Regions from separate parts of the Homo sapiens genome. Here region 1 is linked to region 2. The links come from fine-mapping of genetic effects on gene expression. A gene starts in region 2. The other region holds a variant in brackets. All regions are shown on one strand. Distances are from middle to middle.

Region 1 (4,261 bases), 25 kb before region 2:
TTTTTATGTTTCTTGTGTTCCTATGTAGATATCTGCATATCTAGTGGAATAGTCACCCTTATTAATTTTATAGTGTAGTTTTCATGGGGAGAGACTTTTTTTTTTGTAGATGGGACCTTGAGTGTTCGTTTAATATAGTGTAATGGCTTTGTTTTTGGGTGTATAGTGTGTTTTCCATGCATTTTTCTTCCACTGTAATCCCTGTCAGCAGTGTCTGCAATTGCCTCAGTGGTCTAGGCTGTAGGAATTTTTGATGACAGTAGAGGGGTCTTGCTGGGGTAGAGGCTCTGGGCCCATTGTCAGGCTGGTTGCATGTGGGCACAGAAGACTGACTGGCCTTCCACTGGGCTGTCTGTAGAGTTGGTGGCTGCTGCCAGATGCCTGTCAGGCTAGGCTTGGGGGCACAAGGATGTGGCCAACTGGGATGCTGTGTGGTTCTTTCTCCAAAGAGGCAAGGCTACAGCTAGACTAGATGTCAGGCTAGGTATGCATAGGCATGGCAGTCCTGGGAGGCTCTGTGGCAATCTGTTGGGGGGCAGGTCTTCCATAGGACCAGCTGTTGGGCCAGGTACAGGTGCACACATTCTTGGCAGGCCATCTGGCTGTGGGTCATGGGTGTGTATGGACAAAGTAGCTGATCTGCTGTTTGTTAGCTCCCATACTGTGCAGATTTGCCTGTTCCTTGGAGACAGGGTATATCACATGGGTTTGGATACCAAAGTCTTGATTATTCCTTCTGGCCTGGGCTCTGGACAGCTGGAGTCATGGTGCTGCGGGCACCTGTGTAAACATGGTGGAATGATGGTGGGGCCTCAGGGATAGAAAAAAAAATCAGTTGCCACCAGCCCCTAGAAAAGGGTGCCCTTTTAGTAATGGGTGCAGTTTTAGGATAGCACCAACCTATAGAAGCTTAGGTCACAAGGGTGATGAGTGCCCAATGTAGGCTTCTACTCTGAGACAATGTACCTGCCTGAGCTCCTGGTTAATCTGCAAACTGAATTTGGTGCCTGTGAAGATTGGGGGACTTTACTCTAACAAGGATAGCTGGCATTTGGTGGCAACGGGGGCTGCCAGACATCCACAGCTCAACTTTTCCCAGTAAGAACTCCCTCCTGACGCTAAGTTGATTCTGGTGGGAGAGAGAGTGAGGCAGGGGCGGAAGGCCTCACTGTCCTCTCTCTGGTGCTATCCTGGGCTTCTGGGCTCCACAGAGAATTTGACACTCCCCTGGTGCTCTCCAGCATACTTCTTCAGCCAGTCTAGTCAAAATATAGTTGTTTGTTTGTTACTTCAGTTTCTTTTTGTGAGGAGGGTGAGTACTGGCTAACTCTAGGTTGCATCTTGCTGACTTCATTGAGGCTGTTGATTCTGTTCCATTGGTCTATGTGTCTGTCTTTATCCCAGTACCATGCTGTTTTAATTTTGAAATAAGAAAAGATGCTGTCTCCAGCTTTGTTCTTATTTCTCAAGATTTATTTGGCTATTTGGGATGTTTCGGAGTTCCAGTGAATTTTAGGATTGTTATTTCTACTTCTCTAAAAAAAAAGCCATTGTAATTTTGATAGAGATTGCATTGAATCTGTCAATTGCTTTGTCTAGTATGAACATTTTTTTTAGCAATATTGTTTCATGCCATGAACATGAGATATCTTTCAATTTATTGATGCCTGCTTAAATTTCTTTCATCAGTGTTTTTAATTTTTTTTAAATTTTTTATTATACTTAAAGTTCTGGGATACATGTGCAGAACGTGCAGGTTTGTTACATACATATACATGTGCCATGGTAGTTTACTGCACCCATCCACCCGTCGTCTACATTAGGTATTTCTCCTAATGCTATCCCTCCCCTTACCCCCACCCCCTGACAGCCCCAGTATGTGATGTTCCCCTCCCTGTGCACATGTGTTCTCATTGTTCAACTCCCAGTTACGATGAGAACATGCAGTGTTTGGTTTTCTGTTCCTGTGTTAGTTTGCTGAGAATGATCATTTCCAGCTTAATCCATGTCCCTGCAAAGGACATGAACTCATTCTTTTTTATGGCTGCATAGTATTCCATGATGCACATGTGCCACATTTTCGTTATCCAGTCTGTCATTGATGGGCATTTGGGTTGGTTCCAAGTCTTTGCTATCTTCCTTGTTTGATATTTGTGCTTGTTTTTTGGTTTGTTTGCATTGCGCTACTGTGTCTTTTTCATCTGTTTCAGTTTGTTTTCTGCTGCTGCAATAGAATACCACAGACTGGGTAATTTATAAACAATAGAAGTTTATTTGGCTCAGAGTTTTAAAGGGTGGGAAGCCTATGAGCATGACAAGCATTATCCCATGGCCAAAGGGTGGAAGACAGAAGCAAGT[G/T]TGTGTGTGTGTGAGAGAGAAAGAAGAGAGAGAAGCATCATCACATGACCAAAGGGTGGAAAGGAGAAGTGAGTCCATGTGTGTGTGTGTGTGTGTGTGTGTGTGTGTGTGTGTGTGAGAGAGAGAGAGAGAGAGAGAAAGAGAGAGAAGAGAGAGAAGCATCATCACATGGCCAAAGGGTGGAAAGGAGAAGTGAGTCCGTGTGTGTGTGTGTGTGTGTGTGTGTGTGTGTGTGTGTGTGTGTGAGAGAGAGAGAGGAGAAATCAGGACAAACTCTCTTTTATAACAATCTTAGTGTTGCAATAACTAACCCATCCTGTAATGATGACAAGCCATCATGACCTAATCACCTCTTAAAGGCCTCACCTCCAAATACAGTTATATTGGAAATTAAATTTCAATGTGAATGTTGGAGGAGACATTCAAACTATAGCACCATTCTATCACTTACTGTGTTTTCAATAGTCTATTCTCTTTCGTACTGCTTCTAATTTAACCTTAGTTTTTGTGATATATTTTTCCACTTCAGCATTTTTCCTGAACTATAAAAGAAGCAGAGCTGGTGTTGGGGATGTATTCATTCTCTAGGGCTACTGCAACAAAGTATCACAACAGAAATGTATTGTCTCAAAGTGCTGGAGGCTAGAAGTCCAAGACAAAGGATGTCAGCAAGACCACGCTTCCCCAAAAATCTGCAGAAAATTTTATACTTGCCTTTTCTTAGGTTATGGTGGTTTGTCAGCAATCTGACAAGTGATTTGTTGCTGAATCACTCTAATCCTCTGTCTTCACATGTTCTCCCTATCTATGTCTTCAAATAGCCACCTTTTAGTAAGGACATCAGTCATATTATATTAGGAGGCCAAGCTACATGAGTATGACCCCATCTTATCTAATTACATCTGCAACCACCCTATTTTCTTTTTTTTTAGGAGGGGTCTACTAACACTGTAATTTTTTAATTTATTTATTTTTATTATACTTAAAGTTCTAGGGTACATGTGCACAATGTGCAGGTTTGTTACATATGTATACATGTGCCATGTTGGTGTGCTGCACCCATTAACTCATCATTTTCATTAGGTATATCTCCTAATGCTATCCCTCCCCCCTCCCCACACCCCACAACAGGCCCCAGTGTGTGATGTTCCCCATCCTGTGTCCAGGTGTTCTCATTGTTCAATTCCCACCTGTGAGTGAGAACATGTGGTGTTTGGTTTTCTGTCCTTGCGATAGTTTGCTCAGAATGATGGTTTCCAACTTCATCCATGTCCCTACAAAGGACATGAACGCATCATTTTTATGGCTGCATAGTATTCCATGGTGTATATGTGTCACATTTTCTTAATCCGGTCTATCATTGATGGACTTTTGGGTTGGTTCCAAGTCTTTGCTATTGTGAATAGTGCCGCAATAAATGTACATGTGCATGTGTCTTTATAGCAGCATGATTTATAATCTTTTGGGTAGATACCCAGTAATGGGATGGCTGGGTCAAATGGTATTTCTAGTTCTAGATCCTTGAGGAATCACCACACTGTCTTCCACAATGGTTGAACTAGTTTACAGTCCCACCAACAGTGTAAAAGTGTTCCTATTTCTCCACATCCTCTCCAGCACCTGTTGTTTCATGACATCACTGGCCATCAGTGAAATGCAAATCAAAACCACAATGACATACCATCTCACACCAGTTAGAATGGTGATCATTAAAAAACCACGCTATTTTCAAATAAGATCACATTCTGAGGTACTGGAGGTTGGGACTGTGTATTAGTCTGTTTTCATGCTGCTGAGAAAGACAAGTCCAAGACTGGGTGATTTGTAAAGAAATAATAGACTCAGTTCCACGTGGCTGGGGAGGCCTCACAATCATGGTGAAAGGCAAAACGCACGTGTTACA
Region 2 (4,261 bases):
GAAAAGTACAAGGATATCCCATCTAGGCAGATGTTTATCAGAGTCTGATAAAAAACTAGATATGACCCCTTCCTGTCATTCGAGGTCTGTGATTAATAAAAAAAGAAGAGGTGATACCAGAAAGAAAATTTGTATCTTACTCCTGCTTTTACTTTCTCAAGTTTCTAACTATAAACACTTAAAAATCTAGTTACTCATACTGATTTACCAGCAGTGGGACCCAATCGTAGTTTAATAACAAAATGCCATAATTTACATAAAGAGTAAGGCAAGGTCAATCACCCTTGTAAGCAAGGTTTTAAAACCATCTTTGTGAAAAACCTCAGCTATGCTGCAGATTCCTGGAGAATGACCGTCACATGGTAAGGCAACCTTTAGAATCCATGACTTTGTCAAGAAGCAGAAATACTGCTCATTAGGGTTCTGTGCAACGGCAGGAAGTGTTTCGAAAAAACTTCTGGCTTCAAAGATGACTTTTCAAACGAACTTTTGGTTTTTGGTAACAAAAAACAACAACAAAAAGCTGAGTCCCTGGCTGATTACTCCTTTTTTCTGAGCAACTGAGTTGCATACAGTTATTCTCCTGTCTGAGGGACAGAAATGTGCTCTTAAATGAATGAGTTATAGGTTACAATTATTTACTACTCTTTCTTATGTAACAAGCTATAAATGACAAGAGCACTACCTGGCAGACAGACAGTAGACCTGTGATCCCCCCAACCACTCTGCTACCAGCCAGGTAGCTATACCCTCCATGGGCTTCAGTGTAGGGACTGTAGAATGAAGGGTGGCCTCAGGTGTCCTCTAACCCTAAACCAGCTCCCATTCTAATGCTGTACTGCAGACTGTGCTTCTTAACACCTGTAATGATTGAACAGAGTAATTTTCGTACTTTTTTTTTTTTTTTCTGAGATAGGGTCTCACTCTGTTGACCAGGCTGGAGTACAGCAGTGAGAACACAGCTCACTGAAGCCTTGACCTCTCCTAGGGTCAAGTGATCCTCCTGCCTCAGGCTCCTGAGTAGCTGGGACTACAGGCACGCACGACCACACTTGTCTAATTTTTTGTATGTATGTATGTATATATGTATGTATGTATTTTGTAGAGACAGGGTCTCACTAACAGCCCAGGCTGGTCTCGAACTCCTGTGCTCATGCGATCCTCCAGTCTAGGCCTTCCAAAGTGCTGGGATTACAGGCGTGAGCCACTGGCACTTGGCTTGGTACCATTTCTATGAACTTTCCAATAGTTAACATCATCTTTAAAACGCCCACTCCCAACCACCACACCAGGCAAAGTTCAAGTGTTCATAAATCAGAGCAGAGGGAAATGTACCCCCTCAAACAGAACAAATGAAAGCAAATGGCAGAGAAACACTGTATTGAGGAGTGGGGGGGGGGCGGGGGGGGGCGAGGGCACCAGGGATGGGACTAGGTGTTGGTTTAGCAAGAGAGGAAGGGGTGAGTGTAAGGTTTCAGAAAAGCTTTCCCAAATCTTCACGGAGTGTCTGTCCTCGGCTTCCGATGAGAGCAAAGTATTTGAGGAATGGAGTTTCCCTCACAAAGGCCAGTCTCAGAGCCAAGGCGGGTGGTGGAAAATGATCTGGAAAGGAACCTGGCTTTTGGTCTTGGTGGTGTCACTAACTAGGAGTGCAGCTTCGGGTTAAGTCACCCAATCCCTCTGAACTTGAGTTGAGGCTGAGAGGCGCCGGCCCGCTCCAAAGCAGCCTTCTCAACTAGTCCTGGTGTATGTATGATATACTTGCATTATTCAGAGTTCAAACTTCTGGAAAAGGCCCCCTGGCCTCCTCGCCTCCCTTCAGGAGAGCGAGCTCTGGCGTGCAGGACCTGCTCCAACTCCTACTGCCCATCCCATCCTCTGGGCCCCACCGAGTCCAGCCGACCGCGTCCATCGCATCTCGCCCTTGGATTGGGCCTCTCTCTTCTCCTAAAGGTACCCAGGCAGACGAGTTCAGGCAGAAAAGAAAAAGAAAAGAAGCAGAGAGGAGCCAGGCGGCCCGGCGGGGCTCTGGAGTGGGAAACTCGCGGCCGCGCTTACCCGCGATGTCCCACAGCTGCAGGCGCACCAGAGTCCTGCTGTCCCAGTTGAGGACCTTGAGGGCGAAGTCCACCCCGATGGTGGCCCGGTAGTGCTGGGAGAAGAGCTGGTGGACGTAGCGCTTGATGATGCTGGTCTTGCCCACGCCAAGCTCGCCGATCACCAGCACCTTGAAGAGGTGCTCGCGGGTCTCGGGCGCTGGGGCGGCGGCCGCCCCCAGGCCGGGGTCCCCGGCTCCTCCGCCCGCCATGAGCGCTGCGGCTGTCGGGCGCGCCTCGACTCCGAGTCTGGCCCCCTGCCCGGCCTCGCGCTCTGCCGCCGCGCCCCCGGCGGCCGCGGAAACTCCCCCGAGGCCGGCCAGCCCTCCGCCGCGCCCGCTGACGCCGCCTGACCGGTCACAGGACCCAGAACCCGCCAGTGCTCGCGGCCCGGGCGGGGCCAGACGAGGGCAGGGCCGGACGAGGGCAGGGCCTGGCGCCGGCTTGGGGAGGACCCTGCGCGAGGCGGCTCCCGCCCTGCGCCTCTGAAGCCCGGCCGGGCCCAACTGGACTTCCTCTCCCGGGCGGCGCCTCCGAAGCCCGGCCGGGCCCAGCTGGACTTCCTCTCCCGGGCGGCGCCTCCTGGCGGTCGCGGCGCGGAGGGAGGCCCAGACGCCCGCTGGTGGGCCTCCGGGGAGCCGGCCTGGAGCCTTTATGGGCCCCGGAGGTTCACTGGGGGCCTGAGGAGGCGCCGAGGTCGCTGAGCCCCCCCCGGGGCCGGGGTCGGCGTGGGGTCCGGGCCCAGCCTGGAAGCCTCTGGCCTGGAAATCCACCTCCTGCCCTACTCTCCCCGCAGGGAGAGCCACACTTGCGGGCCTTGGCTTGGGTCGCGAGCAGTCCCCTTTAGATGGGAAAGGAAGTGGCACCGTGACTTTGAACTTAACGAAGGACGGATAACACTGGGCTGGTAGTTCTGTTTTTAACTTTTTGAGTGAACCTCCGTAGGGTTTTCCATAATGGCTGTTCCAGTCCGCATTCCCACCACCAGTGTACAAGGTTCCCTTTGCTCCGCACATCACCGACACTTATTATCGCTTATCTTTTTTATAACAGTCATCCTAGCAGGTGTGAGGAGATACCTAGTGGCTTTTCCCTGTTCATTAGTGATTTTGAGCGCCTTTTCTTATACCTGTTGGCAATTTGTACTTCCTCTGGAAAAAAAAAAAAAGTCCATTCACATCCTTTGCCCGTTAGTTAACTGGGTGTTTTATTTATTTATTTTGGCTGAGTTCTGTGAACGTAATGTATTTTGGATATTAACCCCTTATCAGATATATGGCTCACAAATATTTTCTCCCAATCTATAGGCTGTTTTTTCATTTTGTTGATTATTTCCTATGCGGTGCAGAAGCATTTTAGTTGGATGAAGTCCCATTTATCTAGGTTTGCTTTGGTTGCCTGGGCTTTTGGTGTGATATTGCAAAAATCGTTGCTAAAGCCAGTGACCCAGCTATCCCTCTTCTGGGTGTATACTCAAAGGAAATGAAATCAGGATCTCAGAAATCGCTCTCAAGTTCATGCAGCATTATTCACAGTTGCGAAGATTTGGAAACAACCAAAGTGTCTGTTAACGATGAATGGATAAAGAAATTGTAATACATACATAGGCATGCACGCGCGCATATACACAGACGCACACACACACACAATGGAATATCATTCAGCCTTTAGAAGGCGATCCTGACATTTGCAACAACATGGATAAACCTGGAGGACATTATGCTAAGCGAAATAAGCCAGACACAAAAAGAAAGATACTGTGCAATATCACTTATATGTGGAATCTTAAACACACACACACACACACACACACACACGGAATACGTGGAAACAGTGGTGGTTACCAGGGGCAGGGAAGAAACGGAATGATGCAGGTCAAAGTGTACAAAGTTGCAGTTATATAGGATGAATGAGTCCTAATGATCTAATGTAGCATGAGCGTTATAGTTAATAATATTGTATTTTAAACTGGAAATTTGCTAAGAGAGTAGACTGTAAGTGCTGTTACCATTAAAAAAAAATTGCAGCCAGGTGTGGTGGCACCCACCTGTAGTCCCAGCTACCCAGAAGACTGAGGTGGGACGACTACCTGAGCCTGGGAGGTCCAGGCTTCAGTGAGCTTAATCGCACCACTGTATTCCACCTGGGCGACAGAGTGAGACCAT

What was found. PIP is the estimated chance that this variant, and not a neighbour inherited with it, causes the effect. A credible set is the group of variants that fine-mapping cannot tell apart.
Region 1: its variant is the best candidate, but not a certain one, in a credible set for the expression of RAB32 in whole blood (TOPMed, PIP 0.68).

What each region holds. Positions count from the first base shown.
Region 1 is chr6:146,566,617-146,570,877 of GRCh38, reverse strand. No RefSeq gene overlaps it. Among named protein-coding and RNA genes, the nearest start is that of RAB32, 25 kb to the right of the region's middle. The variant G/T (reference allele first, on the strand shown) is at 2,359.
Region 2 is chr6:146,541,919-146,546,179 of GRCh38, reverse strand. It overlaps RAB32 (RAB32, member RAS oncogene family), which reads right to left and starts at 2,347. Exons shown (of 3, transcript NM_006834.5): 1 at 2,059-2,347. The coding sequence starts at 2,308. RefSeq lists a silencer at 2,394-2,773.